Homo sapiens: one gene and its partners. The protein of the gene in region 6 purifies or fractionates together with the protein of the main gene of each other region. This does not show direct contact. Each region holds a gene or a part of one and is shown on either strand. Other genes may lie near its edges. The genes, in order: PPIL2, KIF5C, CREB3L2, PPP4R3B, SEPTIN2, KLC2 and KIF5A.

Region 1 (4,101 bases), on a different chromosome or scaffold from region 6:
CCAAGGTCCCAGCTCAGCCCCTGCCCTCACCCTGGGGCAGCCCCACCATGCCAGGCAGCACCGACCTCAGACACACAGGCGGGGACTAGGCTCCAGCTCTGGGGAGAGCAGGGGAGCTGGAGGCCGAGGGTCTGCTTAGGCCACGCACAGGCTCACCCCAGCCTCATGGGGCTGGCAGGGGTTCAGCAGCTAAGAGGGGGAGGACTAGGGGCTCAGGTGACAGTGGGAGCCCCTGACAGACCAATAAAGTGGGAGTCGGGGAGCACACCCACCCCCTGCCACTTTTGGGTCACATGGCAGGTGGCTACAGAGGCCAAGGTGGCTACCTGCTTCATGTGTGGTCTCCGGGACCATCGCGGTGGAGGTGAAGGAAGCGCTGACCTTCCCTGTGGAATAGTGGGCCTGCCAAGGAAACCAGGGTGGCACCTCAGCAGTGCCATGGGAGGCAGTTGGGTGGGGACGTGTCGCTTGCCTAGAAGCCAACCACACGCCACCCCTGCCCCCCAGGCCCTGCTTGGTGCCTCTCCTCCAGGAGGGCCTCCCCAACCAGCAGGAGGAAGAAGCCAAGGCTAGGCCAAGCCAGGGTCCCCTGGCCTCCACTGGATCCCGACTCTTATGATATCAGGTGAAACCCTGGAGATAAAATACCACACAGGACTGGCCACCTCAGGGTTAGGAGTGTATGGCTGACTTCTCATTTATTTTTATTTTAATTTTTTTATGAGACAAGGTCTTGCTCTGTACCCAGGCTGGAGTGCAGTGGTGTGTGATCCTGGTGCACTGCAGCCTCCAACTCCTGGGCTCAAGTGACCCTCCGACCTCAGCCTCCTGAGTAGCTGGGACGACAGGCGCATGCCACCACGCCTGGCTGATTTTTTGTAGAGATAAGGTCTCACTATGTTGTCTAACCTAGTCTTGATCTCCTGGCCTCAAGCAATCCTCCTGCCTCAGCCTCCCAAAATGCTGGGATTACAGGTGTGAGCCACCACGCCTGGCCTCATTTCTTTTTAAAAGTTTCAAACTTTCTACACTAAACACATTACATATTTAATCAGGGGTCGGGGAAAAGCCCCAATAAATGTTATTTTTTATCATAGAGGAAGAAAAAGGGGTTTCTCCCATCAGAAGAAAATACAAGCCAGGCACAGTGGCTCACACCTGTAATTCCAGCACTTTCGGAGGCCAAGGCAGGAGGCTCTCACTTGAAGCCAGGAATTCAAGACCAGCTTAGACAACATAGCAAGATCCTGTTTCCAAAAGAAAAAAAAAAGTAATATATCAAAGTGCTAAGGGCAGTGTGTTAGACGGAGTGACACACTGGACAACAAGCTTTCTTTTTCAAATTTTCCAGAATTTGAATAATTCTTTAAGAAGGAGAACTTCAGAGCTACCTGCCCATGTCTCTGCCCTCCCCCTAGCTCCAGATCCCCATGCTCTGCCTGACAGGAGGAAGAAGCAAACACGACAGCCCCAGACAGGTGGCACCGTGCAGTCCCAGGCATGCCATCCACGTCAGCACCGCAGCAGACCATGAAACGCCCCAACTCTCCCTGGCATGGCTTTGGGCCCCAGTGCACATCGGGCCCTGCCCTCCCAGCCACCACAGAACCACATGTGCCCGCTCAACGTGCCTGCCCTGGCTACTGAGCTCAGGCTGGGACCACAGCACAAGGCAGACCTTCTGTGGCAGGGATCTCCCCTACATGCCCCCACACACCCCTTGGTTCTTCAACGACCAGTGTGGACATCAGCCCCTCCCCTTCTGCCTTCTCAGATTCTATCTGCCTCAGGGCAGCCCCAGGGCTGTGCACTCAGAGCCATCAGGGGCACCACAGCTCTGGGGGATCCTGGCTGCCTCCCTGCCGTGTATCCCAGGCCCCCATGAGCCCCTTTCCCAGGACCACTCCAAGAGGCCATGAGATGGGCAGGAAGACGGGGCTTGGGCTTGGCCGAGTGCCCTCCGCCACTCACAGCGTTCAGCTTGTCCACTTTCTTCTTCTCCGGGGCCTTCATGGTGGCTGCCAGAATCTCGTCCCCTTTGAACTCCTTGTAGAGCTCCTGCAGGGTCTCTCGGGTCTCGGCATTTGTATTTTTCAGATAATAAGACGGGTCCTGTTTGGCCTTCTCTTCATCTACAAAACAGTAGCATGGCCCTGAGCCGCCGAGCCCCCAGTAGCCTCCCCACACACGTGCTGGGGACACAGATCTAGAATAGCCCAGGGCCGTCCAGCCATGGCGCAGGCACCGTGCCACTGCCAGCCACAGAATGCCACAGTGCCCCGCTACAGGCCTGAAGGTCTCCCCAGGCAGTTCACAAGGGTCTCAGGATGGACTTCAGGTTGATTTGTATATTTTATATTTATCTGTATATTCTAATCTTTTTAGAGTATACGCTTTGCTTTTTTTTTCTTTTTTTTTTTTTTTTTTTTTGTGGAGATGGAGTCTCGCTCTATCGTCCAGGCTGGAGTGCAGTGGTGCAATCTCGGCTCACTGCAAGTTCTGCCTCCCAGGTTCACGCCATTCTCCTGCCTCAGCCTCCTGAGTAGCTGGGACTACAGGCGCCCGCCACCACGCCCGGCTAATTTTTTTGTGTTACAATCTTGTAACCTCGTGATCCGCCTGCCTCAGCCTCCCAAAGTGCTGGGATTACAGGCGTGACCCACCGCGCCCAGCCTTTTGAGACAGGGTCTAGCTCTGTCGCCCCAGCTAGAAAGCGGTTGCAAGATCTCAGCTCACTGTAGCCTCCACCTCCTGGGCTCAATCGATTCTCCTGCCTCAGCCCCCCAAGTAGCTGGGGCTACAGGCGCACCAACTACACCCAGCTAATTTTTCTATTTTTTGTAGAGACAGGGTGTCCCCATGTTGCCCAGGCTGGTCTCGAACTCTTGAGCTCAAGCAATCCGCCTGCCTTGGCCTCCCAAAGTGCTGGGGTTACAGGCATAAGCCACCACACCCAGTTGCTTTGCTTCTGTAATTTTAAAGGTTATTTTTATTTAAAATAATAGAAGTGTTTGGGGGTCTTTCCAGATGTGAAATCACCCATTCTTGCCGACTCAGGAGGGTGCCTGCTGCCTACTGGGCCTTGGACAGCAGCCCACCCTGTGGAGAGGGGCCGGCATCCCTGTGCAGAGAGCACAGACACGGCCCAGCCCCAACCCTGACCTCAGGCTCTCCTGACTCAAATCTTCCCCAGTTCACGTGCTCAGCCTACCTAAAACCCGTTCAAACAATGCTCACAAAGTGCCCAGGCCACTGCTCTGCAGCACAAGGCCGAGTGACCTCTGAACATGAGTCCTGCTGGCTCCTCCAAGGCTGCAGGACAGCCACCAGAGGCCAGGGAAACAGGAGGACCCCATCACCCCACCACCTGCCCACTGACAGCACCGGCCAGTCTGCAGGGAGCAGGGGAACCTGAGCAGGTGTGCTGGCAGGGCAGCAAGTCTATCCCGCCCATTGTTTCTGAGGCTGCAGTTGGCTCAGATTCTCTGAACACTAGTTCAGAAAATGCAGGGCCTGTCTGGGCTGGGACCCCCTGACCTCCAGGAAAGCGGGGGCTTTACCCAGGGAGCACTGTCCCAATTTCATCCAAAAGCCCCCTCGCCTAGCCCAGCCCCTAGGTGTACATACCTGGGTCTATTATTTTCATGTTATTCTTCACATGATAGAAGTTAGAGACATTGAACTTGTCCAAATTGGTGGGGTCCTGTGGCAAAAAGAGAATGCCCAGCAGAGTGAACCCAGCCTACGGCCAAATGGCAGCCACATGCAGCAAAGGACGGCCAGCTGTCAGAGGTGTGGAAGAGGCCAGGGCTACACTGAGGTTGGGGGAGTCAAGCAGGGCATGAGGGAGGAGGTGGTCTGCCCCAGGCAGGGCAGCAAACAGGGGCAGGGGCAGGGACGGGGACGCAGCCTCGCTAGCTGCTGGCTGAGCTGTGACCTTCCTCCAGGCACATGGCTAACGAGCATTCATTGCTGTTAGGGAGCTATCGGACCGGAACGTGGGCAGCCGTGGGCCGACCTCTGGTTAGAATGGGACAAGCCACAGAGGTGATTGACTCAGCAGGCCACGCTCCAGCCAGCACCTGCTTTTCTAAGTCAGTG
Region 2 (4,101 bases), on a different chromosome or scaffold from region 6:
ACTATCAGTATACTTAGCAAATCCAAGGCATCCAAATATTTAGGGGACAGAAAGAACTTAAACATCAATTAGCTCATTTCTAATTTGGGCCAAGAAAAGTTAGAAAAAAAGATTTTCAGTTTCATCTGAAATGGATCGTAGGTTCCCCATGACTTTCAAGGATATCTGTGTAGCCCCTGAAATTGGATGCAGAATTCTGCCTGTGATGCTGTTTTCTGGGGAGAGGGTCCATAGCTTTTAATAGATTCTCAAAGGGTATGAAATCCTACACATGCAATGAACCACTATTCTAAGGTATGATTTAAAACTAGAAACGTGAAACTGCTGGTTTGCAATACATCTACACAGCAATATCTGATGGGAAATAAATTACATGTTATTGGAGATGTTTCAATTTAAAAAAAAAAAAAAGGAGAAGAAGCTGTTTAGAGAATATTCCTAAATTGTTTTTGTCCCTATGGCTATCCTGGGAACCAGGACTCTGGCTACACCCTCATTTCCTACATGGGCAAAATGCCCAAATCCATACAGGTCTTGAAGAGGCTGAGACTCCAGACCTCCCCAGGTTCTGTGCCAGCCTGTAGCCACACCCTGTCATGGATGCCAGCCTGGCTCTTCCAGGGGTATTTCCAAACCTGCACTTGGAGGCTTTCCCTGGGGCTCTGGCTACATATGGGCTCCTTCATGCTCCCACCGGGTGCAGAACACAGGGCCCTTCACACCTTGCAGAGAAATATCCTCCTATTCCAGTATTTCTAAGAGTGTACCCATTTATAGCCCAAGACCTAGGCCTACAGCCTTGGCTGGCTTCTCTCTGCCCAGCTCAGAAGTTTTGAGACCACGATGTATGCTGGAATATCTCAGAGTAGGATAACGGGGGCGCCTGACATTCCCATTCCCACAGGGTGAGCACAGGGTGCGGTGAGGGCTGCGTCCTGCGGGCTCCAACCCAGCCTTTCAGATGTTCCAGAGTGGGCCAGCGCTGTCTTCACCTTTTAGCAAATCTGAGCTGAGAGGCCGCAGTAGCTTCTCAAACCCCGGGCGCCACTGTGCACGCACGTACCGATCTGGGCTGAATGGGCCCTTCTGGCCATGTTCTTGGCCCGCACGGCCTCCTTGATACGATCCACCTCCTGCTGGTAGCGCTTACGGTCCCGCATGGCGTTCTCCTTGGCCTCCTTCAGCGCGCTCTCCAGAGCCTTGACGCGCTCCGCCGTGGCACGCAGCCGCTTCTCCAGCTTGGGCAGTTCACAGCGCAGGTCTGCGTTGTCCCGGACCAGCTGGGGCAGGAGGATAAAGGAAGGGAGTTACTACCAGGCAGGCAGCATTGCACAAACCAGAGCAGCCAGAAGCAGCCCCTGCTGCTGAACAGGTGGCCCCTGCTAGGTTGTCCTTGGCACTCCGTACAACCACAGAAAGGAAAGGAAAACTCAGACTGTGGGGTCCAGGTTCCTGAACACGTGATTCACAGGGTGCAAGGAACGGTGGGGTGGGGATACAATTAAAACCTATTTCCCACCACAAGAAACTTTCCATCTGAGGCAGGATTTACCTCCTCTTCTGTTTGGGTGTGTGTAGAGGAAAGGGGGATTGTGTGAGAAAATCGACCACATATGAGAATACTAAATTAGCATGAGAAAGCTGAAACACTTAAAGTCGGTTTGAAAGGACTCAGTGAAAAACAAGCATGTTCCTGAGCTCTCAGAGGGCTTCCTTCCATGCAGAACCTGCTGTTTACACTGGCATGGGGTTTGGACCCAGCTTTGCAACACATCCAGAGGCTAAGGTAAGAGGAGGAGACTGCGCCTTTTTGCTGATTGAAGAAGCAACAGCCCAGCCCTAGGTAGGAGTGGGCTCAAGGGCCAGCTCTTTATGTCCTGGCCATCTGACTTGGTGTAAGTCATTTGACCACCACAAGTCTCAAGTTTCTCATCTATAACACAAGTGTACTACATAATAGGGGACCCAGATGGATGGAGGGAGTTTTGAAAATCACAAAGTGCTACACCAAAGTGAGCTACTGCTGGGTCTCCTGCTTTGTTCTCCTAGCACCAGCTCTAGTGCCTGGCAGAGAGTACATTTTTAATAAATGCTCGTTCAATCCATGAATAAGATAATGCATTTCAGCTGGGTGCAGTGGCTCACGTCTGTAATTCCAGCACTTTGGGAGGTCAAGGTGGGCGGATCACGAGGTCAGTGGTTCAAGACCAGCCTGACCAACATGGTGAAACCTTGTCTCTACTAAAAATACAAAAAAATTAGCCAGGAGTGGTGGCGCGCACCTGTAATCCCAGCTACTCGGGAGGCTGAGGCAGGAGAATCTCTTGAACCCAGGAGGCAGAGGTTGCACTGAGCAGAGATCGCACCACTGCACTCCAGCCTGGGCGACAGAGCAAGACTCTGCCTCAAAAAAAAAAAAAAAACATTAAAAAAAACAAAAATAAATAAAAATAAATTTTAAAAATGCATCTCAGAGCCCTATTTCAAGCTCCCTGACAGTTTCTGCTTTCGTATTTCTCATCGACAATTTGTTTGAGTGACTTCAACTATCTAGAATCTATCATCCTCTCTCTGGGGAAAAAATGCCATCATCAGTAATATTGAAGAAGACTTAACAAGTCAAAGAGAAATGACATCTCCTCGGCCATGTGGTCTAAAAACTTGGGCCGTTTCCATCATATCCCAATTCCTAAAGAGGGAAAACAGCCATGCACACACCAACATTTAAAAAGAAAGTATCCAAGACAAATGACCTGCTGAAATCACTGGTGAGTTTGGACACAGTTATCACTCTCTGTCACTCTAGACAAATGCCAGCACATCGCAGGCATCCGAGAGAGCATCTGAGATCGCTAGGAATGGGCAGCTGAGCAGAGAGGGTGCTGGTTCCAGTCCCGGTCCTCCCACGGTGCAATGAAGCAAGGCACCAGTCTGTTTCCCCATCTGTAAAAATAAAGGACTTGAACCAGCTCAGTGGTGTCCACTTTCAGGTCCACAGAGGTACCTCAGAGGTGTCATGGGAGACACAGAGGCTAGATGGTGTCCAAAGTCAGGGGTGGAGGCAGGATGAAAAGACAGGCCTCTGAACACTTCCCTCTCCAACCCCAGAGAGCTCAAACCCTATGCGTTATATTTGGCTTTGATAAAAGAAAGTCCTTTATATATACGGGAAGTCACTGAGAACTAAAGGATTTGTAAGGACCTTTCCAGCCCTCATGTCCTCTGATAGTGTACAGTTCTTTTACCTTCAATCTCAGTGCCTTCTCCGCACACTGTGGCCAAACCTGGTGGGGCTTCTTTCCAGGAGAGAGGAGGGAATCAGAGGGGAGCGGGCAGAACTCTCCTACCTGCTTGTGAACTTTGGTGAGCTGCTCCAGGTTATTCTCCAAGAAGGAAATTTTCTGCTTCTGGGCAGCACTGCCCCCTCCATCATCGTTGTCCAACTCCACACTCTGCATTGACACCAAGGGGTCAGCAGGACAGGCTGTCACCCACCCACCCTCCGCCCCAGGATAATGTGGATGGAAAAAAAAAATCCCCATTCCCACCAAAGGGTATTCTGAAAGTGAAAATAGAGGTTCTAAAAGTTTAGACTCAAGAAATCCCCCAATTAATTTCCCTTATTAGTATGAAAAGCGATTTGAGGAGCTAATTTTTAGAGAGCTAAAAAAAAAAAACTCCTTCAAATCTGCTTTTGAAAGTTGTAGATGATTTATCTTCAGTAAAATATACATCTGCCTTTCATGTAGTAAATAGAGACTTCTTTTCAAAAGAAAGCATTCCAAAACTCATTAAGAAACAACAACTGCAAAAACATAAACCCAGGACCTAAATTTGATTTCAGCCATCATGGTGGGACAACAAGTCACCAAACTTGTAAGCAAGTGTCTATGGTCCCACTGGGAAGTCTTAATGGCCTCTGCTTGTCCCTTCAGCTTCCAAATCTATAAAATTAATTAATGAACCAGGCTCAAATTAATCATAGCATCCGGGTGCTGGGTAAATTCTTGAAATTTATCAGATCTTGAAATTGGCAAAACACTGCACTCCTGGCAAGCCGAGTGGCACAGATAAATTGGAAAGTACAGGTCCTAACACATC
Region 3 (4,101 bases), on a different chromosome or scaffold from region 6:
GCTCATGCCTGTAATCCCAGCATTTTGGGAGGCCAAGGCAGGTGGATCACTTGAGGCTAGGAGTTTGAGACCAGCCTGGCCAACACAGCGAAACTCTGTCTCTACTAAAAATACAAAAAATTAGCCAGGCATGGTGGTGGGCACCTGTAATCCCAGCTACTCGGGAGACTGAGGCACAAGAATCACTTGATCCTGGGACATGGAGGTTGCAGTGAGCCAAGATCACGCCATTGCACTCCAGCCTGGGCAACAGAGCAAGACTCTGCCTCAAAAAAAAAAAAAAGCTTTATCCTCCAAAGAAAAACTCTCTTCCAAGAACTACTGTTAATAATTCTAACAAGAATCGGGCATTAAAATATGGATGGTTCAGAATAACCCATCTCAATTCTTTAAAAAAAAATCCCCAAAGCTCTTCGTAATATCAGTAAAGTTCAAATAAACAGATTACACCTACACCAGAATACAGCAACTCAAAAGCAGGCAATTCAACATGAGGTAACTGTAGCTGAGCCCCAGAGCAGCTGTACACACAAGAGGAAAATATGGTACGTGATCTAAGAAGTTACGTCTCACTTTTGAATTGACCTTCCACACAGTCGAAAAGATTAGACCTACCCCCACAGGATGCCACAGAGGGTTTCCCAAGCCAAAGTACAAGCAAAAGTCTAGGCAAAACACAGCTTGCCTCTAATGAGTGACACGGACTGTAGAAGCAGCTGAATCCCAGGAATGACCCATGAGCTCCTCTTGGGTTTACACTGCAAGAGAGCTGAGTCACTCAACATGCCCTGAGATAAATGGGTGCAGCGATAAGAAGGATCAACATCCCAGCTCTTCTTTGAAACACATCAAGAAACACATGAAAATTCAAGGGTTACCCAGCCAGAGCTGTTCTGCTGCTCAGGTGGACCTAGCAGGCTTGAGTCAAACTCCAAAGATCTGCTTTTCGTCAAAAGACAAATAACAAGTATAAAAAACTGAGAACCAGATGCACTGAAGTTTATAGCAGAGCCCAGGGGAACATACAGAGAGAAGAGAAGGCCAAGTACCAAAACACTCACATTTAACAGCTGGTATGGAAGCCAGAAAAGGAGGAAGAACTAAGCTTGCCAGAGTGTCATGGAAGCCAAAGCAAAAACGAGTTATGAGACAATCCTGTGGTCAGTATTGCCAAATAGTCCCATGAGGCCCTGCAGGTAAGGACAGAGAAAAGACTATTGGATTTAGCAGCCAGGGAGAGGTTGAGCAGTAGGACCCAGCGGGCAGAGGATACAGGGTAGAGACTAAGGAAATGGAGGCCATGGCTGGTGACCACGCACTTGAGAAAACCTGGCAGTAAACAAGAGAAAAGAAATGAGTAAGAGGGAGCATCTGGCAAACATGTGTTCAAGGCAGAGGCCTGTGTTTACAGCACAATGTAGGAGCTGGAGAGGAGAGGAAATAAAGATGCATGAGAGAGAATAATGACAGGCTCTCTCCACTTTCTGAATGATGTCAGACTCCTAAGGTTGGGACACCTTGTTCTCAAAGAGAAGACATTTGACTTAGGGGATAGGTTGGAAAAGTACTTCTATTATGGATCAGGCAGTGACATGCAAAGAAACTGAAATCCAAATAGGTGAAGTAATGTACCCAAGGTCACCAGAGAGCCTGTGTCCCTCAACATCAAAATGGCCTGCCTTGAAAGCCCACCCTTTCCACCATGCCATCAACTCCACTCCCACTGGAAACAGGGACTGTTTCAATCACCCCACGCCCACCTTGTTCTCTAATCAAAACAAGAAAAGATATCAACACTGAATTACCCAAGTCACTATTATACTGAATTTTCACATTTGCAAAACCGTTTACAAGAATCCAGAGTTTATTTGTTTGTTTGCTCATTTATTTATTTATTTTGAGACAGGGTCTCACTCTGTTGCCCAGTCCGGAGTATAGAGGCGTGATCACAGCTCACTGTAAACTCAACCTCCTGGGCTCAAGCGATCCTCCTGCCTCAGCCTCTGAAAGCGCTGGGATTACAAGCATGGGCTACCACGTCTTGCCCAGAGTTTTAAAAATATATAAAAACAGGCCAAAGCCACCCAGCTTATCCATTTTCCAGGACTGCCTCACTCTACTTAACTATGCATCAAGCACTTACGATTCTCTGGGCATCCTGCACTTGACTAAGGACCATGAGGGTATAGAAGAGACAGTCATGTCTCCTGTCCTCAAGGAACTTGTGCTGAGCAAATCTCTACTGCTCTATGTCTTACATTCCCCATAGATAAAATGGCCCATCTTCTCCCATGTGCCTCATGAATAACCTATACAATTTGATTCAAGGAAAAATCAAGATCCCTTAGCACTTCATTTAGAAAGGCCAGGGTGCATCCACTGAGCAGGGAAAAAGAGAAATAGGCTCAAGGTTGATCCAGAGACAGTGGGTCTCATTATTTCCTTTCCATCCTGATTCCACAGGGGCAGAAAACAAGGGCAGCACTCCCTCACTCATAAGATCACTCATTTGGACAATTCAGATGCCCTGCAACCATAGGCCTCAATCCTACCAAATGCCCAGCTAAGGCTTAAGGCTATTTACCCCAAGAGAGTCACCAGACAGCGTAGAGCCATGTCAGGCTGAGGCCGGCAGTTTTAGCTGCAGACAGGCACATGTGCCCTCATCAATATTTGAACAGCCATATGCAACTGGAAAAATTGCTTCTTTGAAAAATGGCATTTAGCTTGCCACCTGCTGTCGATCCCAAACAGAACAAATCATTCTTGTCCTGCATGGTAAGCATGATTACAGGCTCAGCTAGCTACCTCCAGCCCTGGTATTCTACTCTGACGCCAAGAGTCCAGATAATACAGTTAATTCTACATCTCCTAGTTAGTGAGTCAAGACATAGCCATAATCTCCTCCTGGCTCCCACCCCTCCCTAGCCTTTCCCTGCACTTTCAAGAGGCTATTTCTACATCTATAGTCTTCTTTCACTGGGCATTGGTAGCACAGCTAAATAATATTCTTAGAACTTTGCTGGGCCGGACGTGATAGCTCATGCCTGTAATCCTAGCACTGTGGGAGGCCGAGGCAGAGGATCCCTTGAGCCCAGGGGTTCAAGACCAGCCTAGGCAACATAAGGAGACCCTGTCTCTATTTAAAAACAAAAAACAAAAGAACTCTGCGAGTGGCACAGTACTTGGGTTTACTGTTTTGCGCCCAGGGCAAATTACTGTGAATTTTAAATTTTCTAGTTGCTAGCCCATGTTCATGAGAAAAGAAACATACCTTTTGACTAAGGAAAGAATTGTTAACTCAGACTATTTTACTAATGATCCCAATGGTCATGCTGGTTGAGTCTCCATCCCCATATGATTAATCTAAGCTGATAATATAAATCCCATTCTCCTTTCCAGCCATTGGCTTAAGAATGGTCATATGACCGAATCCTTACCAATAAAGCTTTAAGAAAAATCAGCTAGTGGGCTAGTAAGAAAAGTTTCTTCCATTCTAAAAAAGGGACACAAGAAAGAGACAACTTCTCTTCTTCCTCTGGATGTTGTCATTTTGAATGTAACCCCTGTAACTCCTATGTCCATCACACATCCAACCTGAGGATGAAAGCTGCACATGGGCAGAACCAAGGTCCATTGAGGAACTGCTGAATCAGCCAACAAGGAGCTCTATTTCTTTTTTTTTCTTTTCTTTCTTTTTTTTTTTTTTTTTTTGAGACAGAATCTCACTCTGTCACCAAGGCTGGAGTGCAGTGGCATGATCTTGGCTCACTGCAACCTCCACCCCCCAGGTTCAAGGGATTCTCCTGCCTCAGCCTCCCGAGTAGCTGGGATTACAGGCGCCCGCCACCACGCCCAGCTAATTTTTGTATTTTTAGTAGAGACAGGGTTTCACCATCTCGGCCAGGCTGCTCTTGAACTCCTGACCTTGTGATCCACCTGCCTTGGCCCCCCAAAGTGCTGGGATTACAGGCGTCAGCCACCGCGCCCGGCCAGGGGCTCTATTTCACAACCTCTTGCAACATGAGATAATTTACTTACTGTATGAGCCGATCTGAATCCATTTTCAGTTACTTCTAGCTGCAAGCACTGTAATTAATT
Region 4 (4,101 bases), on a different chromosome or scaffold from region 6:
CTCCGTCTCAAAATAATAATAATAAAAAATAGCTGCATCATCGATATATATAATAGGCAAATTCATAAAGAGTAGAATAGTGGTTACTAAGAGCTGGAAGGAGGGAATATGGGGAGTTACTGTTCAATGGGTTCAGAGTTTCTGTTTGGGATGATGAAAAAGTTCTGGAAATGGATAGTGGTAACTGCTGCATAACACTGCAAATATACTTAATGCCAATGAATTGTACACTTAAAAATTGTTGAAACTGGCCGGGCACAGTGACTCATGCCTGTAATCCAAGCACTTTGGGAGGCCGGGGCAGGTGGATCACCTCAGGTTGGGAGTTCGAGACCAGCCTGACCAACATGGAGAAACCCCCCTCTACTAAAAATACAAAAAATTGGGCTGGGCGGGGTGGCTCACGCCTGTAATCCCAGCACTTTGGGAGGCTGAGGTGGGTGGATCACAAGGTCAGGAGATCGAGACCATCCTGGCTAAAATGGTGAAACCTTGTCTCTACTAAAAACACAAAAAATTAGCTGGGCGTGATGGCGGGCGCCTGTAGTCCCAGCTACCCGGGAGGCTGAGGCAGGAGAATGGCGTGAACCCGGGAGGCGGAGCTTGCAGTGAGCCAAGATTGCGCCACTGCACTTCAGCCTGGGCGACCGAGCAAGACTCCGTCTCAAAAACAAACAAACAAACAAACAAACAAAACTAGCTCGGCGTGGAGGCACATGCCTGTAATCCCAGCTACTCAGGAGGCTGAGACAGGAGAATCACTTGAACCCAGGAGGCAGAGGTTGCGGCGAGCTGAGATCATGCCATTGCACTCCAGCTTGGGCAACAAGAGCAAAACTCCATCTCAAAAAATAAATAAATAAATAAATAGTCAAAACGGTGAATTTTATGTTATGTATATTCTACCTCAATTTTAGAAACACAAATACTAAATTGTATAAAAAGCTAAAACACAGGCTACTTAAAAATATAAAAGGCTGGGCTGGGCGCGGTGGCTCACGCCTATAATCCCAGCACTTTGGGAGGCTGAGGCGGGCGGACTGCCTGAGCTCAGGAGTTCAACACCAGTCTGGGCAACACAGTGAAACCCCTTCCCTACTAAAAATACAAAAAAATCAGCTGGGCATGGCAGTGCACACCTGTAGTCTCAGCTAATCGGGAGGCTGAGGAAGAAGAATTGCTTGAACCCGGGAAGCGTAGGTTGCAGTGAGCTGAGATTGCGCCACTGCATTCCAGCCTGGGCGACAGAACGAGACTCCGACTCAAAAAAATAAATAAAAGGTTGCACTAAAACCACAAGACATAAAGTCCCAATTTCTTTTGTTTACTTTAAATGTACTTAATAGTACATTTAAACAAAATAAATCTTTCAAAAAATAGAGGGTATAAACACCTGCTTGAACTATTAAGGGAACTAAATATCTGAAAAATGGAATCGTGAAGAGTATCTTTTTACTTACCTGCAACATGCTGACTATCTCAACTTTGTTGAAGAAAATAAAAGACGTAAGAGTAGAAAGAAAATTCTCTTCAAAAACAGATGGTGTGGGCAAAATGATGTCCTGAATGTACTGTACCCTGTAAGTCTGATGTATTTTTTGCCTTAGTTCAGAGTCTGTTATTGGTATAACTTCCTTGAACTTTGCAGTTTTGGTCAAGAATTCTCTATGTCTTTTTGGCTGAGCCAAAGCAGGGTCATATTCAAGGCATCCCACGACATCCATGATACACTCATCAGAAAACATTACCTCAAAAAGAGTTGCCTTATTTAGGAATAAGATTCCTCTAATAATTTCATACAAATGGTGTAAGCCTTCAGTGTTTTCTAGGTTCTCGCAAGCTTGGAACAGCTGCAATAGTTTTTTAATATAGCCTTCATTTTCCAAGGCGAGAGCCAGCTTTTCCCTACGGATAGGTGAGGAGAGCACTGAGGTAACTAAGTCAGCAATCTCTTCAAGTTTATTGAGTTCACATGTGGGCAGGTCAATCAGATGACTAGTTTCAGGCATTTCTTCAAATCGTTCTTCTTCAGATTCATCAATGAGGTCCTGTGTGACTTCCACTGATGGGTCTTTACCTTGAACCTAAAAATATCCAAGTATACAGCTAATTACCTTAAAATACAAAATAATTCAAAATTTTGGAAATCAAATCATTTGGAAATGCCTGGCTAGTCACTACTAATTAAAAGTGAAGTCTAGGCCAGGCACGGTGGCTCACGCCTGTAATCCCAGCACTTTAGGTGGCTGAGGCAGGCAGGTCTCTTGAGGTCAGGAGTTCAAAACCAGCCTGGGCAACATGGTGAAACCCCAACTCCACTAAAAATACAAAAATCAGCCAGGTGTGGTGGCATACGCCTGTAATCTCAGCTACTCAGGTGGCTGAGGCAGGAGAATCGCTTGAACCTGGAAGGTGGAGGTTGCAGTGAGCTGAGATCGCACCACTGCACTCCAGCCTGGAAGACAAAGCAAGACTCTGTCTCAAAAAATAAAATAAAAAATTAAAATAAAATAAATAAATAAAATAAAATGAATTCTCTTCCAGCTTGGTCCCTGAATGACTCTCATGAGTAGGGCCCCTTCCCCTATTGGTCAAACAGCATTAAGGAGAAATCAACTTTTGTTGTGACAAGCCATTGAAATTTTAGGATTGTATTACTACAACACAATCTGATCATAACGTCTCAGAGACAGCCAATGAACTCTGCTGTATGGATTCACAATAAATCCACACTATCAATAGGGTTTTTCAATAAAAATTCTCTAGTCTATAATCCTATCGTCATCCCTTACAGCTGCTGCTTTAAATATTTTTTCACTTTCCAACTTCTCAAACATTACCTTCACCTTTAAGTCTCAGAAGATAAGAGGCTTCCTTTGAATAAAAAGCCCATCAGTACTCAACTTCCTCTAACATTTCTCCATCTCACAACTTACCTTCACACATTTCCTTCATTCATTTCAAAGGAAATGTCTATACCATTTCCTAAGGTTAACATTTCCATATGTACTTCTAAACTTATGCTTTCTCAAAGCTAAACATATAAAAATTATCTTTGCTCTTGTTTTTATAATTTATTTCTCTCCAATGGTTCCTTCTATTTCATCATTCTCCAATCCCCTTAAGACACTCTGAACTATCTGAACCATCAAACTTTTTCAGGGAAGCTTTTTTGTTCTATTTTCTCATTATAAGGGGTGGCGGCTCACGCCTGTAATGCCAGCACTTTGGGAGGCCAAGTTGGGCGGATCACCTGAGGTCAGGAGTTCAAGACCAGCCTGACCAACATGGAGAAACCCTGTCTCTACTAAAAGCACAAAATTAGCTGGGCGTGGTGGCGCATGCCTGTAGTCCCAGCTACTCGAGAGGCTGAGGCAGCAGAACTGCTTGAACCTGGGAGGCGGAGGTTGCAGTGAGCCGAGATCACACCACTGCACTCTTGCCTGGGCAACGAGAGTGAAACTCTGTCTCAAAAAAAAAAAAAAAAAAAAAAAAAAAAAAGGCGGGCAGGGGTGGTTAAGAAATAATTAAGTAATATGGCGCTTACTGAAATTGAAATTGTCCTTTCAAAGATCAGTAATGACTTCCCAGAACTGAAAAAGTAAAACATGAGATATGATTTTGTGAAATATCATGCAGTAGTTAGGAGCAAAAAACTAAATACATATTCAGCAACATGCACAGATTTTAAGAAGTAGAGTGCTGCGTTGTACAGTAAAGAGTTAACTTTGCTGGGCTATCAGAGTGCTATCTAATATCCCTTCCAAAGGTGGAAAAGTCTGAATAAAAATCAATGACAAAGAAAAAAATAAAATTTAAAAAAACAATGACAAATGGAAAGGAGAAACAGTAAAAGAGGGAAAAAAACATGAAAAAATGAGTAATGTAACAAGGAAAATTCAGTATTAACATTGGTGCCTAAGCTGGGCGCTGTGGCTCATGCCTGTAATCCCAGCACTTTGGGACGCTGAGGCAGGCAGATCACGAGCTCAGGAGTTCAAGACCAGCCTGTGCAACCTTGTCACTACAAAAAATACAAAAATTAGCCAGGCATGGTGGCGCACGCCTGTAGTCCCAGCTATTAGGGAGGCTGAAGTGAGA
Region 5 (4,101 bases), on a different chromosome or scaffold from region 6:
AAATGAAAACATGTCCATAAAGATTTGTATATGAATATTCATAGCTACTTTTCTCAAAATAGCCCCAAACTGGGGACAGCAGAGGTATCTAGAGAGTGGATTAACAAATTGTGGTGTAGCCATACAATGGAATATTGCCAAGCACTACAAAGAAACGAACTACTCGTAGATGCAACAACATGCATCAGTCTCAGAGCTTTGTTGAGCAAAAGCAGCCAGACACAAAACAGGCCATGTTGTATGATGCCATTTAAAAGTTTTAGAATAAGCAAAGCTGATACATAGTGACAAAGTAGATTGGTGTTTGCCTGCGGTGGGGACTGGAGAGGGTAGACTTCACAGTTACACAAAGCAACTCTAGGGTTATGAAAATAATCTTTATCTTGAGTGGAGTTTGATTATCTGAGTATCTACTTTTGTCAAAACTGTACAGTTTAAATGGGTGTATTTTAGTATTTGTAAATCGTGCCTCAAAGTGGCTTTAAAATAAAACAGGTAGGGGGTTGAGGGTGAGTAGTGAAAAGTAAAACTAGAAAGCCACAAGAATCCTCAACTTTTAAATTGTAGTATTAATAGCTCAAGAAAAATGGGTGTATCAGGAAAACCCTAACACACCTAATTAGTAAATGAGAGACTATTGAAGAGGAAAGGCAGTTTTTAAAATTTTGTCAGACTTCTAAAGAAACAGGTAAAGGGGCATTGCACCACCGTTTATTAAAAGGATGACTTAATGGGATAACAGGCATTTAGTCAAATTTTTACACTCATATTTAGGCATGTTCAACACATTGTTTTGTTCTTTTCATGTGTGAAAATTGCAGTTCACTTAAAATGCAGTCCTAATTTTGTATGTCTGCATGTTTCTTTTTGTTTTGTTTTGTTTTTTGAGATGGAGTCTCGCTCAGTCGCCCACGCTGGAGTGCAGTGGTGCGATCTCGGCTCACTGCAAGCTCCGCCTCCCGGGTTCACGCCATTCTCCTGCCTCCCGAGTAGCTGGGACTACAGGCGCCCGCCACCACGCCCGGCTAATTTTTTGTATTTTTAGTAGAGACGGGGTTTCACCATGTTAGCCAGGATGGTCTTGAACTCCTGACCTCATGATCCGCCTGCCTCGGCCTCCCAAAGTGCTGGGATTACAGGCGTGGGCCACCGCGCCCGGCTGTGCGTCTGCACATTGCAAATTCACTTATTTGTTCTTGATTTTCCCAGAATTGTTTTATTCTGTAAGGGACAGGGTCTCACTCTGTCACCTAGGCTGAAGTGCAGTGGCATGATCATAGCCTGCTGTAATCTCTAACTCCTGGGCTCAAGCAATCCTTCTGCCCTAGCCTCCCAAGTAGCTGGGACTCTAGGTACAAGCCACAACACCTGGCTAAGGTTTTGGGGTTTTTTTTACTTTGTTTTGGTTTTTTGGGAGATGGGGGTCTCACTATTTTGCCCAGGCGGGGTCTTGAATTCTTAGCCTCAAGTGATCCTCCAGCCTTGGTCTGCTAAAGTGCTGGGATTATAGGTGTGAGCCACTATGCCCAGCCAGAAATAATTTTTCAAAAGAGATGTGTACTCCTTCCTCATGCTTTGCAGAACTTAACAGAGGGTGGTTTAGGGTACCCAGAGGACAGTCCAGCACCAGTAGTACCAAGATCAGAAGCAGTTCTCCATGCAGAATTGAGACCTAGATGATCATCTGCAATGAAGCAGTGGGATTTGTGCTTCCTTCAAATGTAAAATTTAATTTTTGGTATTTTGCATCTTTTTTGAAGTTAAATTTCAAATATTCAGAATATGTAGTCACAGTAGTTCAAGAGAGATTCTCACCTCATTGAAAGCTTACATGGATATGTGTCACCTGAATTAGTCGTGTGAACTCAACAAAGTGAGCGGGAAAGTTGCCCGACATATGACAGTTGCCAGTGCTGGGAAACGGGGATGGATTTAAAGCAGGAAGAAGACAAGGTGGCAGAAGGGGGAGGTTGCAGAGTGAGGGTGTGCATGTGAGCCCACCAGACCACAGGCCCTGTCCTGCTCACACGTTTCTGCAGCTCGGGAAGCACAAGGGTTGTTGACACTATGGGATAGATATGTTCAGTTTTCTGAAAATGTGGTGAGTTTAGTGACTAGCAGAACTGATAATTGAAAACCTGCTTTGCATTCTATTTGTCAAAAATAAAAACCAACCTCTAAAGTACATTCCTCACATTTGTGAACAGTTATGTTTCTAATTATATGATGTTCAAGTTCTGTAGTCTCATAGACCTGGATTCAAATCTTGGCCCTGCTCTGGATAGTACTCTGACCTTGGGCAAATTAGAGTTTCTTTGAGTACCCTCAAAGATCATACTGCAAACATAGTAGTACTGTAGGTACTAAACACAGAATGATGTTTGTGAGGTACTTAGCCCAGTACCAGGCCTTATGTAAACACTTAACCGATTGAATGGTGTCATATGAATAAGGTCATGACAAGGTTTTTCTTTTTATTTAAAGGTGAATCAGGTCTAGGAAAATCGACTCTCATAAACAGCCTATTCCTAACTGATCTGTACCCAGAAAGAGTCATACCTGGAGCAGCAGGTAAAAACATTCTTATGTTACTGTAAGTGTAATTCTACATGAAAGATGCTGAAGACTGCCTAATTAATATTTTATGTCTTAGCTGTGTGTTTTGTTTGTTCTTGTTCAGCTTTGAACACAAGGAAAACACTTTTATGGGGTAGGTGTGCTGCACCGAGGTCCTTGGATTTGGGTTGTAGACTTTCTTTGACACGTATCCATGGATCCATCCTCTCTTGAGTTTGTCTGTAAAATGTAATAAGTAGTTTCTGCCTATATTAAATATTTGATGGAAGGATTAAGTGAGAATGTTTTACATCAAAAATGCTGTGTAACTAGAAGATTACTAGGATAGATGTTCGAATTCATCTACTGTCAGAAAGTTCCAGCACAGGACACCAGCATCCACAAATGACTGTTGAATGAAATAGGCACACATAGTGAGAGCCTAAGACTTGGGCTGCTGCAAGAATATGTAGCCCTTTCAGAATATTTTTGAATTCAGTTTTTAAATGAATTCGTAAATTGCTTTCTTTTTCCCAGGAACAGAAATTATAATTTTTAACATTTGTGTTTTTAACCTTCCCCAGTAGCACAATAATCTTAGCTTTAACCTTCCCCTTTCTGACTTCTCTGGGATCTTTTTTTCTTAATCCCCATGGTATCTTTGGAGAACCTACCTCTGTAGAGAGGCAGTAGACTCTGAAGTCACCTGTCGTAAGAACGTGAGCTTTCCTCTTCACATGCTGCTTATATTCCCTATTAAGTTTGTTTCTTTTCTAGAAAAAATTGAAAGAACTGTCCAGATTGAGGCTTCAACTGTTGAAATTGAAGAGCGAGGGGTCAAGCTACGCCTGACAGTGGTAGATACCCCTGGCTATGGTGACGCTATCAACTGCAGAGATTGGTATGCTCCCCCATGCCCAGGGATCTGCATTTGTTTACTTAATATACTTCATAAATTTATAGATAGTGTTAATGAGTGATTATTAAGTTTGGGATTGCTGTATATAATAAAACACCTAGACAATTTAAAGCGTGTTAAATGTTGACTTTTTAAATAAGGAATTTTATAGAGAGTAATTTTTTTCTGGTACTCTACTGTAATTTGAGATCGCAAAGCCAGTCATCCATAGACTGCTAGTATAAATGAAACACCTGGATTTGAGCCGTGGTTGGTGACCGAGATACTGTAGTACATCCTTTCTATGTGGAAGGAAGTGAAACCTGTTAGAGAGTGGGTTGAGTCGTAGTGTCTGTAAATGACTGCTCATTGGCATCATTTTCACAAATAAGGAAATGAAGAAGTAGAAGATAGAGCAGTCTGTCACCTGTACCGTGCAAAGAATGCCACTTTTGTTGTACAAACTCCCTCCTGGTTCTATTCCTGTCAACATAAAGCATCAGGTTTCCACCACTAGATGAAAAGGGGAAGGTTCTGTTATCTTTCTCCTACATTTAGGAATTTCTCCCTTCTTACATGTGAAAGTGCTGTACTGTTTCCCAGCTCAGTTAAATGCTGTTTCCCAGCTCAGATAAACCTGTTCTTGA
Region 6 (4,101 bases):
CGGGTGTGGTGGCTCACGCCTGTAATTCCAGCACTTTGGGAGGCCCAGGTGGGAAGACTGCTTAAATCCCGGACTTCATGAGACCCTGTATCTACAAAAAATAATTTTTCTTTTTTTTTTTGAGACAGTCTTGCTCTGTTGCCCAGGCTGGAGTATAGTGGCACGATCTCAGCTCACTGCAGCCTCTGCCTCTCAGGTTCAAGTGATTCTCCTGCCTCAGCCTCCTGAGTAGCTGGGACTACAGGCACGCGCCACCACACCCAGCTAATTTTTGTATTTTTGGTAGAGATGGGGTTTCACCATGTTGGCCAGGATGGTCTTGAAATCCTGACCTCGTGATCTGTCCGCCTCAGCCTCCTGAAGTGCTAGGATTACAGGCGTGAGCCACCGTGCCTGGCCAAAAAATTTTTTAAATTAGCCAGCTGTGGTGGTGTGCACCCGTAGTCCCAGTTACTCAGGAGGCTGAGGGGGAAGGACCACTTGAGCCTGGAAGGTAGAGGCTGCAGTGAGCTGTGACGGTGCCATAGCCCTTCGGCCCAGGTGACAGAGTGAGACATTGTCTTAAATTAAAAAAAAAAAAAAAAAAGAGAGAGCAAGAAGGGAGGTTGGACCCTAGGCAGGAAGGCAGGAAGAGACTGGAAACTAAGGAAAGGAGTTGCAGAGGCTGGGGAGAGGGGTGGGGGTTGAGGCCAAGGCCTTTGGATACTTTTCCTGCCCCTGTGGCTCCTCATGCCAACTGAGCATTTGGGACACATGCCCCTTCCCTACCTGGGAGCTGCAGAAAGGCAGGGGATGCTGTGGCCCCTCAGCAGAAGTGGGGATGGAGTCTTTGGGTGGTCCTTCAGCCATCTAGCAGAGTTCTGTGGGCAAGCGCTAGCCCTGAGGCAGGGAGCAGTAACCTACTGGCTGTGGCAGCAGAGGCTTGAGTACAACCCAGGGAGAGACGAAGGAAGGGGCTAGTAGCTCAGGGAAAGCACAGCACCCCAACTAGCCCTTTTGGGGTTCTCCTGATCCTAGAAGGAAGGAACTGGGGACTCCCAAGCCTCCTGGGTTTGGGCTTTGCATTATGGTGTGTCGGGGGCCTTGAGGAGATTCTCCCTTGACAAGCAGAGAAAAGACCTGCAGCTCCTCACTGTAGGGCCAGGCCTGGCCCTTCACTGGGTGCCAGAGCCCAACTAGGCCCAGGCTACAGTCATAGGCGAGGGGGTCGACAGGCCTCCGACCCTTACCTGGGCTGGTTGCACAGGTGATCTTGGCATTGTCGAGCCACCTGGGGGCTGTAGAATCAGAGAAGCAGAAGCTGCGGGCGCAGGTGCGGCGTCTGGTGCAGGAGAACCAGTGGCTGCGTGAGGAGCTGGCGGGGACACAGCAGAAGCTGCAGCGCAGTGAGCAGGCCGTGGCCCAGCTCGAGGAGGAGAAGCAGCACTTGCTGTTCATGAGCCAGATCCGCAAGTTGGATGAAGACGCCTCCCCTAACGTGAGCTCCTACCATGGTCACTGTTGCCCAGCAAGGAGGCCTGGGAGCAGGGAGGGGCAGCATGGAGCAGATTCGGCTCCACCCCAGCCCATGGACACCCCGGCTGCCCTGTGCCTCCTTCCCTGATGCTCATCCTGTCTTCCTTCCCAGGAGGAGAAGGGGGACGTCCCCAAAGACACACTGGATGACCTGTTCCCCAATGAGGATGAGCAGAGCCCAGGTGCGGATGGGCAGTTCTGGAGTGGGGGAAGGAAAGGTTGTGTGAACTCTTGGTCCTTGGGACCGAGTGGCTGCCATGTTCCTTCCTGCCTCACTTCTGATCATGACATCCTAGTGTGTTAGAGCTTCAAGAACAGTTGTACGTGCTGCTGCTTCTCACATCCCCCCAGCTCTGTGGTGAGCAGACATCACAATTAGCTGTGGAGTCACCAGCCTGGCTTCCAGTGCTGCTCTGCCACTAGCTTCCCTGACCCTTGGGAGAGTTCTCTTCCTCTCCGAATCACCTCTGAAGGAGGCACATGCAGACAGCCACAATGGGGCCAGTGCCTGCTTTGCTGATGGTACTGGTTATGCATCGGGGCCTCCACTCTGTACACAGGGACACAGGCTCAGAGGTTAGGCAGCTTGCCCCAGGACACAGAGCCTGAAGTACTGGAGCTGGGCCTCTACCCCCTCTTTCTATGGGGTAACTAGACCCATTCTATAAATGGGGAAACTGAGAAAGAGTGGTTAGTGACTTGCCCAGGGCCATGTGTCAAGTGGCTCAAAGGCACAGCTGGCATGTGCCATCCCAGTCCAGTGGGCAGATGGTACATCTGACCTCCTGCCCTTGGCCCTGCAGCCCCTAGCCCAGGAGGAGGGGATGTGTCTGGTCAGCATGGGGGCTACGAGATCCCGGCCCGGCTCCGCACCCTGCACAACCTGGTGATCCAATACGCCTCACAGGGCCGCTACGAGGTAGCTGTGCCACTCTGCAAGCAGGCACTCGAAGACCTGGAGAAGACGTCAGGCCACGACCACCCTGACGTTGCCACCATGCTGAACATCCTGGCACTGGTCTATCGGTGAGGACTCTCTGGGGGTGCCCAAATTCTTCTGGAAGGCTCCAGCCCTGGATCACTAACCCTTGGTGCCTGCTGTGGGCCAGGACTCGTGGCCCACCTGCGTGGAGCTGGGCTACAGATGCAAGTAAAACTGTCTAGTGTAAGAGAGAGGCTTGGCCAGAACTGGGGAGGGACTGCACATGAGGACTCCAGGGGTCCTGGGGAGTCCACACAGCTTCTCCAGGCACCAAGGCTGGAGGAGGGGCTTTGCCAGAAAGTGAGTTTGCCCAAACACAAGAGGGCTAGAAAAGGTTCCCATGGCAAAAAGCCAGCATGAGCAAAGGCACTGGGACCTGGAGAGCAGGACACGCTAAAGGGGCAGCAGGAGAGCCATGTGGCGCCCAGGAATGCTAGGCACCAGGCAGTCGGTGGGACCCCAGCACTGCGCACCCCAGCCAATTGTGAGAAAACTGCCTACAGCCCTTGGAGCTTGGAGAGCAGGAGCTGAGCAGGTCTCCCCACACTCTGGGTCTCACTCTGTCATACACACTCAGTGAGTACAGGAGTGACCACAGGGATTGCAGACCATTGGGGAGGGCCTTGAGCTGGAGGACAGCCCTGACCATGCTCCTACCTGCTCCCAGGGATCAGAACAAGTACAAGGAGGCTGCCCACCTGCTCAATGATGCTCTGGCCATCCGGGAGAAAACACTGGGCAAGGACCACCCAGCCGTGAGTGAGGGTTGGGTGGGAGGTGGGGGCTGTGCCCCATCCCCTGCAGGTCCCAGAGTCCTGCAGGGCCTGAGTCAAGAAGCTTCCGTTCTCCCACCTCCAGGTGGCTGCGACACTAAACAACCTGGCAGTCCTGTATGGCAAGAGGGGCAAGTACAAGGAGGCTGAGCCATTGTGCAAGCGGGCACTGGAGATCCGGGAGAAGGTGGGAACAGGCAGGGCTGGGCAGGCTGGGGGTCTGGGAGGCAGGGGCCCGGGCAGCCCTGAGCCCAACCCCTGGCTCCCTCTCCCATCCCAGGTCCTGGGCAAGTTTCACCCAGATGTGGCCAAGCAGCTCAGCAACCTGGCCCTGCTGTGCCAGAACCAGGGCAAAGCTGAGGAGGTGGAATATTACTATCGGCGGGCACTGGAGATCTATGCTACACGCCTCGGGCCCGATGACCCCAATGTGGCCAAGACCAAGAACAACCTGGTACCTTGGGGCTGAGAGGAGCTGGAGGATGGGAAGGAGGGAGGCAGGGATGAGGTTGGGGAAGAAGGAGAGAAAAAGGCTTGGCTGCATGCATCCCGCTCACTCTCTGGGTCTCCCGCTTCCAGGCTTCCTGCTACCTGAAGCAGGGCAAGTACCAGGATGCGGAGACCTTGTACAAGGAGATCCTCACCCGCGCTCATGAGAAAGAGTTTGGCTCTGTCAATGGTGAGTGCGTGGTCACCAGGTGCCTCTAGCCCATCCATCCCAGGCCCACTCTGCCATCAGCACCCAGGACAAATCCCTCAGCAGGGCAGGCCCTCAGGCTTTGGCCTGGCTGGTCACCAGCCTCACCCTCAGATGGTGCCCAGCCACCTGTG
Region 7 (4,101 bases), on a different chromosome or scaffold from region 6:
AACATTTAGGAGACTGGTTAACCTAAGGAGTGAATTAAATTATAGCATATACATATATTTTATTCCTCACTGTTATTTAAAATAATGCCATAACTGGCTAGGCATGGTGGCTCACGCCTGTAATCTCAGCACTTTGGGAGGCCAAGGCAGGCAGATTACTTGAGGTCAGGAGTTCGAGACTAGCCTGGCCAACATGGTGAAACCATGTCTCTACTAAAAATACAAAAATTAGCTGGGCATAGCGGTGCATGCCTGTAATCTCAGCTACTTGGGAGGCTGAGGCACAAGAATCGCTTGAACCCAGGAGGCAGAGGTTGCAGTGAGCCGAGATCGCGCCACCGCACTCCAGCCTGAGCAGCAAAGTGCAACTCTGTCCCAAAAAAAATAAATAAATAAAATTAAAATATCATAATAGAACATTAATAAATAGAACGTCAATATATCTCAAAAACACGTTGAAAGAATCCAAACACAAAAGAGCACATACTGTATTACTCCCTTCATATGAAGTTCAAGAATGGACAGAACTTATCTGTAGTGCTAGAAGTCAAAACAGCAGCTACCTGCTATTGTGGTAACAACATACAAGTGGTATTTACAGGAAGAGGATATGAAGGAGCTTTCAGGAGTGACAGAAATGTTCTAGATCTTGATCTGTGTAGTGGTTACATGGGTGTCTACATATGTCATAAAATTTATCAAGCTGTTTGCCTAAGATCTGTACACTGTATGTAAATTATATCACTATCATAAATTATAACATCATAAAATGATGTTATAGTGGCTCCTAAATGTTAAAATATATTAATTAATATTAATTAATGCTCGACCTCACTGTTAATAAGCAAAATGCATATTAAAACTATGAAACACCATTTTTACCTATGAAAGTGGCCAAAATAAAATAGACAACGCATTACACTGGTGAGAATGTGAGTAAATAGATATTCACACATACTGCTGAGGGTACATAGAAATTGGAGCCAACTCTGTGAAAGGCAATTTGGAAATAGCCTCACATTTTTAAATGCATATGCTTTATGACCTCCACTTCGAAAAATTTATCCTGTAGACATACTGCACATATGCAAAAAATATTTATACAAGGTCATTCAACTGTTTGTAATAGCAGATGATTAGAACAACCCTTAATGTCCACCAACAGAGGCCTGGTTAAATAATGGCCTATCCCTACAACAAATTATACAGTTGAATGAGATAGCTCATGTACCGTGTAATCCGAGCCCTTTGGGAGGTCAAGTCTGGAGGATCCTTGAGGCCAGGAGTTGGAGACCAGCCTGGGCAACATAGGGAGACCCTGTCTCTACAAAAATTAAAAAAAAATAGCCAGGTGTGGTGGCATGGGCCTTGTGGTCCCAGCTACTCAGCAGGCTGAGGCAGGATGATGGCCTGAGCCTCGAAGGTGAAGGTTGCAGTGAGCCATGATTGCACCACTGCACTCCAGCCTGAGCAACAGAGTGAGACCCTGTCTTGAAAAACAAAACAAAACCAAAAAAGAATGAGATAAATCTTTATGTGCTGATAAGGAAGGGTGTCCAAGACTCTGTTTTGTTTTGGGTTTTTTGTTTGTTTGTTTTGCTTTTTGTTTTTTGAGACAAGAGTCTTGCTCTGTCGCCCAAGCTGGAGTGCAGTGGCTCCATCTCAGCTCACCGCAACCTCTGCCTCCCGGGCTCAAGCAGTTCTCCTGCTTCAGCCTCCAGAGTAGCTGGGATTATAGGCGCCCGCCACCACACCCGGCTAATTTCTGTATTTTTAGTAGAGATGGGGTTTGGCCATGTTGGCCAGGCTGGTCTTGAACTCCTGACCTCAGGTGATCCACCCGCCTTGGCCTCCCAATGCTGAGATTACAGGCGTAAGCCACCGCACCTGGCCTAATTTTTGTATTTTTAGTAGAGACGAGGTTTCACCATGTTGGCCAGGATGGTCTCCATCTCCTGACCTCATGATCCGCCCACCTCAGCCTCCCAAAGTGCTGGGATTACAGGTGTGAGCCACTGCACCCAGCCAGAATTTTTATATTTTTAGTAGAGATGGGGTTTCACCATGTTGGTCAGGCTGGTCTCGAACTCCTGACCTCAAGTGATCCTCCCGCCTCGGCCTCAAAGTGCTTAGATTACAGGCATGAGCCACCACACCCAGGCTGTTTTTGTTTTTAAAGGTGCAGAATGGATGTATAATACGCTACCATTTGTGTAAAAAAAGGTATGCATGTATATATGTATTTGCTTATAAATGTATAGTAGGTTTTTGGAAAGATCCACAAGAAGTTGCCTTCTGAAAAGGGAACTGTGTGGCTGGAAAAGAGGGGTGAGAAGGAGAAGGAAACAATATAAACCTTTTCATATCCTTTGCATTTTGTCACATGTGCAGGTAAGACATTCGAAAGTTAAATTGAAAATTGTAAAATATAGCCAGGCATGGTGGTACATGCCTATAATCCTAGCTACTCAGGAAGCTGAGGTGGGAGGATTGCTTGAACCCGGGAGGCAGAGGTTGCAGTGAGCCAAGATCACACCACTGCACACTCCAGCCTGACTCCATCTCAAAAAAAAAACAGAAAAATTGTAAAATAATAAAGTTATGTAAAAATATTTAACAATGGCAAAATAGTAATAATATTTTGTTTGAGAAAAAAGGTTACAAAACAATATATAGTTTATGATATATAATCTTATTAAAATTAACATATGTATATATGTAGAAAAAACACTGGAAAAATACATCAAATTATTATTAATAACAGTGCTTCTTTGGGGTGGTAAGATATTGGGTGATTTTTAGCTTCTTCGGTGTCCTTTCCTTTGTCTTGAACTTTGTTAACAATTAAAATGTATTAGTGTTGTAATTACATTATTTTTAATATTATTAAAGAAAAATCTACCTTAATTTTGAATTGTAATTAATTTTAAATTGTAATCTACCTCAATGTTTCTCCCACCCAGTGGCCAAGAAACAGAAACAAGCAAAATATGTCTATCTCAAGCCAATGCCTCTCATCTTTTTTTTTTTAATTTCCTTTTTCCTTTATTATGTGACATAAGACTTATTGACTTCGTATCAGCATTTAAGTATGTTAACTTTATATAATAGCATTTGGGTTGGGGATTGGTGCATTTCCGGTTGTACGAAGGATAGTTGTATTATATTAGGCGCATAATTATGACCTTATTATTGTCCTTATTTGAAGATTTGTACGATCTCAGGAGATGTGTATGGGTTCAAGTTGATGAGGGGTGGAATTGTGATGGTTAATACTGAGTGTCAACTTGACTGGACTGAATGATGCAAAGTATTGATCCTGGGTGTGTCTGTGAGGGTGTTGCCAAAGGATATTAACATATGAGTCAGTGGACTGGGAAAGGCAGATCCACCCTTAATCTGGGTGGGCATCATTTAATCAACTGCCAGTGCAGCCAGAATATAAAACAGGCAGAAAAATGTGAAAAGATGAGACTGGCTTTCTCATCTCTTTCCCACCAACAATCTCTATCCATGCTTCATGAAGCCAGGCACCCAGCCAAAGGGGATTAAATGTAACTCTCAAGCCAATCTTGCCCCTCCCCTCCCCCCACAAACACATGGGCACCAACACACCAACCACCCCACCCCAGCCCCCACACACACTCCCTCAAAACATTCCCAGTTACAGGATCTAGAAGGCTCCACAGACGCATTAAAATGGAGAGCGCTCTCCAAATGCTGAAGCCAATTATAGCCCCTTTTCATCAGGAACCCCTTTACATCAGTCTAGGCTGGGAAGAAAGAAAAGAGCAGAGAGGGAAGAAGGAAGAGATTCTCAGATCTGAGTCTAAAAGATACCCAAGAGTGGGCTGGGCGCGGTGGCTCACATCTGTAATCCCAGCACTTTGGGAGGCCGAGGCGGGTGGATCACGAGGTCAGGAGATCGAGACCATCCTGGCTAACACGGTGAAACCCCGTCTCCACTAAAAATACAAAAAATTAGCCGGGCGTGGTGGCAGGCGCCTGTAGTCCCAGCTGCTTGGGAGGCTGAGGCAGAAGAATGGCGTGAACCCGGAAGGCGGAGTTTCCAGTGAGCCGAGATCGCGCCACTGCACTCCA

The links.
Region 1: the proteins of KLC2 (region 6) and PPIL2 purify together in Homo sapiens (affinity purification with mass spectrometry; one large-scale study listed by BioGRID and IntAct). This does not show direct contact.
Region 2: the proteins of KLC2 (region 6) and KIF5C purify together in Homo sapiens (affinity purification with western blotting; 3 studies listed by BioGRID and IntAct, with this or other methods). This does not show direct contact.
Region 3: the proteins of KLC2 (region 6) and CREB3L2 purify together in Homo sapiens (co-immunoprecipitation; one large-scale study listed by IntAct). This does not show direct contact.
Region 4: the proteins of KLC2 (region 6) and PPP4R3B fractionate together in Homo sapiens (co-fractionation; one large-scale study listed by BioGRID). This does not show direct contact.
Region 5: the proteins of KLC2 (region 6) and SEPTIN2 fractionate together in Homo sapiens (co-fractionation; one large-scale study listed by BioGRID). This does not show direct contact.
Region 7: the proteins of KLC2 (region 6) and KIF5A purify together in Homo sapiens (affinity purification with western blotting; 3 studies listed by BioGRID and IntAct, with this or other methods). This does not show direct contact.

Annotation. Positions count from the first base shown.
Region 1 is NC_000022.11:21,682,784-21,686,884, reverse strand, and holds part of PPIL2 (RING-type E3 ubiquitin-protein ligase PPIL2), read right to left. Parts: intron 3,704-4,101; coding exon 3,628-3,703; intron 2,133-3,627; coding exon 1,972-2,132; intron 403-1,971; coding exon 327-402; intron 1-326. UniProt on the Homo sapiens protein: Has a ubiquitin-protein ligase activity acting as an E3 ubiquitin protein ligase or as an ubiquitin-ubiquitin ligase promoting elongation of ubiquitin chains on substrates.
Region 2 is NC_000002.12:149,007,314-149,011,414, reverse strand, and holds part of KIF5C (kinesin heavy chain), read right to left. Parts: intron 3,453-4,101; coding exon 3,348-3,452; intron 1,281-3,347; coding exon 1,064-1,280; intron 1-1,063. UniProt on the Homo sapiens protein: Microtubule-associated force-producing protein that may play a role in organelle transport. Has ATPase activity. Involved in synaptic transmission. Mediates dendritic trafficking of mRNAs.
Region 3 is NC_000007.14:137,991,639-137,995,739, forward strand, and holds part of CREB3L2 (cyclic AMP-responsive element-binding protein 3-like protein 2), read right to left. Parts: intron 1-4,101. UniProt on the Homo sapiens protein: Transcription factor involved in unfolded protein response (UPR).
Region 4 is NC_000002.12:55,596,956-55,601,056, forward strand, and holds part of PPP4R3B (serine/threonine-protein phosphatase 4 regulatory subunit 3B), read right to left. Parts: intron 2,085-4,101; coding exon 1,461-2,084; intron 1-1,460. UniProt on the Homo sapiens protein: Regulatory subunit of serine/threonine-protein phosphatase 4 (PP4). May regulate the activity of PPP4C at centrosomal microtubule organizing centers.
Region 5 is NC_000002.12:241,332,642-241,336,742, forward strand, and holds part of SEPTIN2 (septin-2), read left to right. Parts: intron 1-2,484; coding exon 2,485-2,571; intron 2,572-2,680; coding exon of another isoform or gene 2,681-2,710; intron 2,711-3,317; exon of another isoform or gene 3,318-3,333; coding exon 3,334-3,457; intron 3,458-4,101.
Region 6 is NC_000011.10:66,260,496-66,264,596, forward strand, and holds part of KLC2 (kinesin light chain 2), read left to right. Parts: intron 1-1,229; exon of another isoform or gene 1,230-1,246; coding exon 1,247-1,477; exon of another isoform or gene 1,478-1,517; intron 1,518-1,627; coding exon 1,628-1,697; intron 1,698-2,318; coding exon 2,319-2,541; intron 2,542-3,164; coding exon 3,165-3,252; exon of another isoform or gene 3,253-3,355; coding exon 3,356-3,457; intron 3,458-3,550; coding exon 3,551-3,724; intron 3,725-3,849; coding exon 3,850-3,949; intron 3,950-4,101. UniProt on the Homo sapiens protein: Kinesin is a microtubule-associated force-producing protein that plays a role in organelle transport. The light chain functions in coupling of cargo to the heavy chain or in the modulation of its ATPase activity.
Region 7 is NC_000012.12:57,556,186-57,560,286, reverse strand, and holds part of KIF5A (kinesin heavy chain isoform 5A), read right to left. Parts: intron 1-4,101. UniProt on the Homo sapiens protein: Microtubule-dependent motor required for slow axonal transport of neurofilament proteins (NFH, NFM and NFL). Can induce formation of neurite-like membrane protrusions in non-neuronal cells in a ZFYVE27-dependent manner.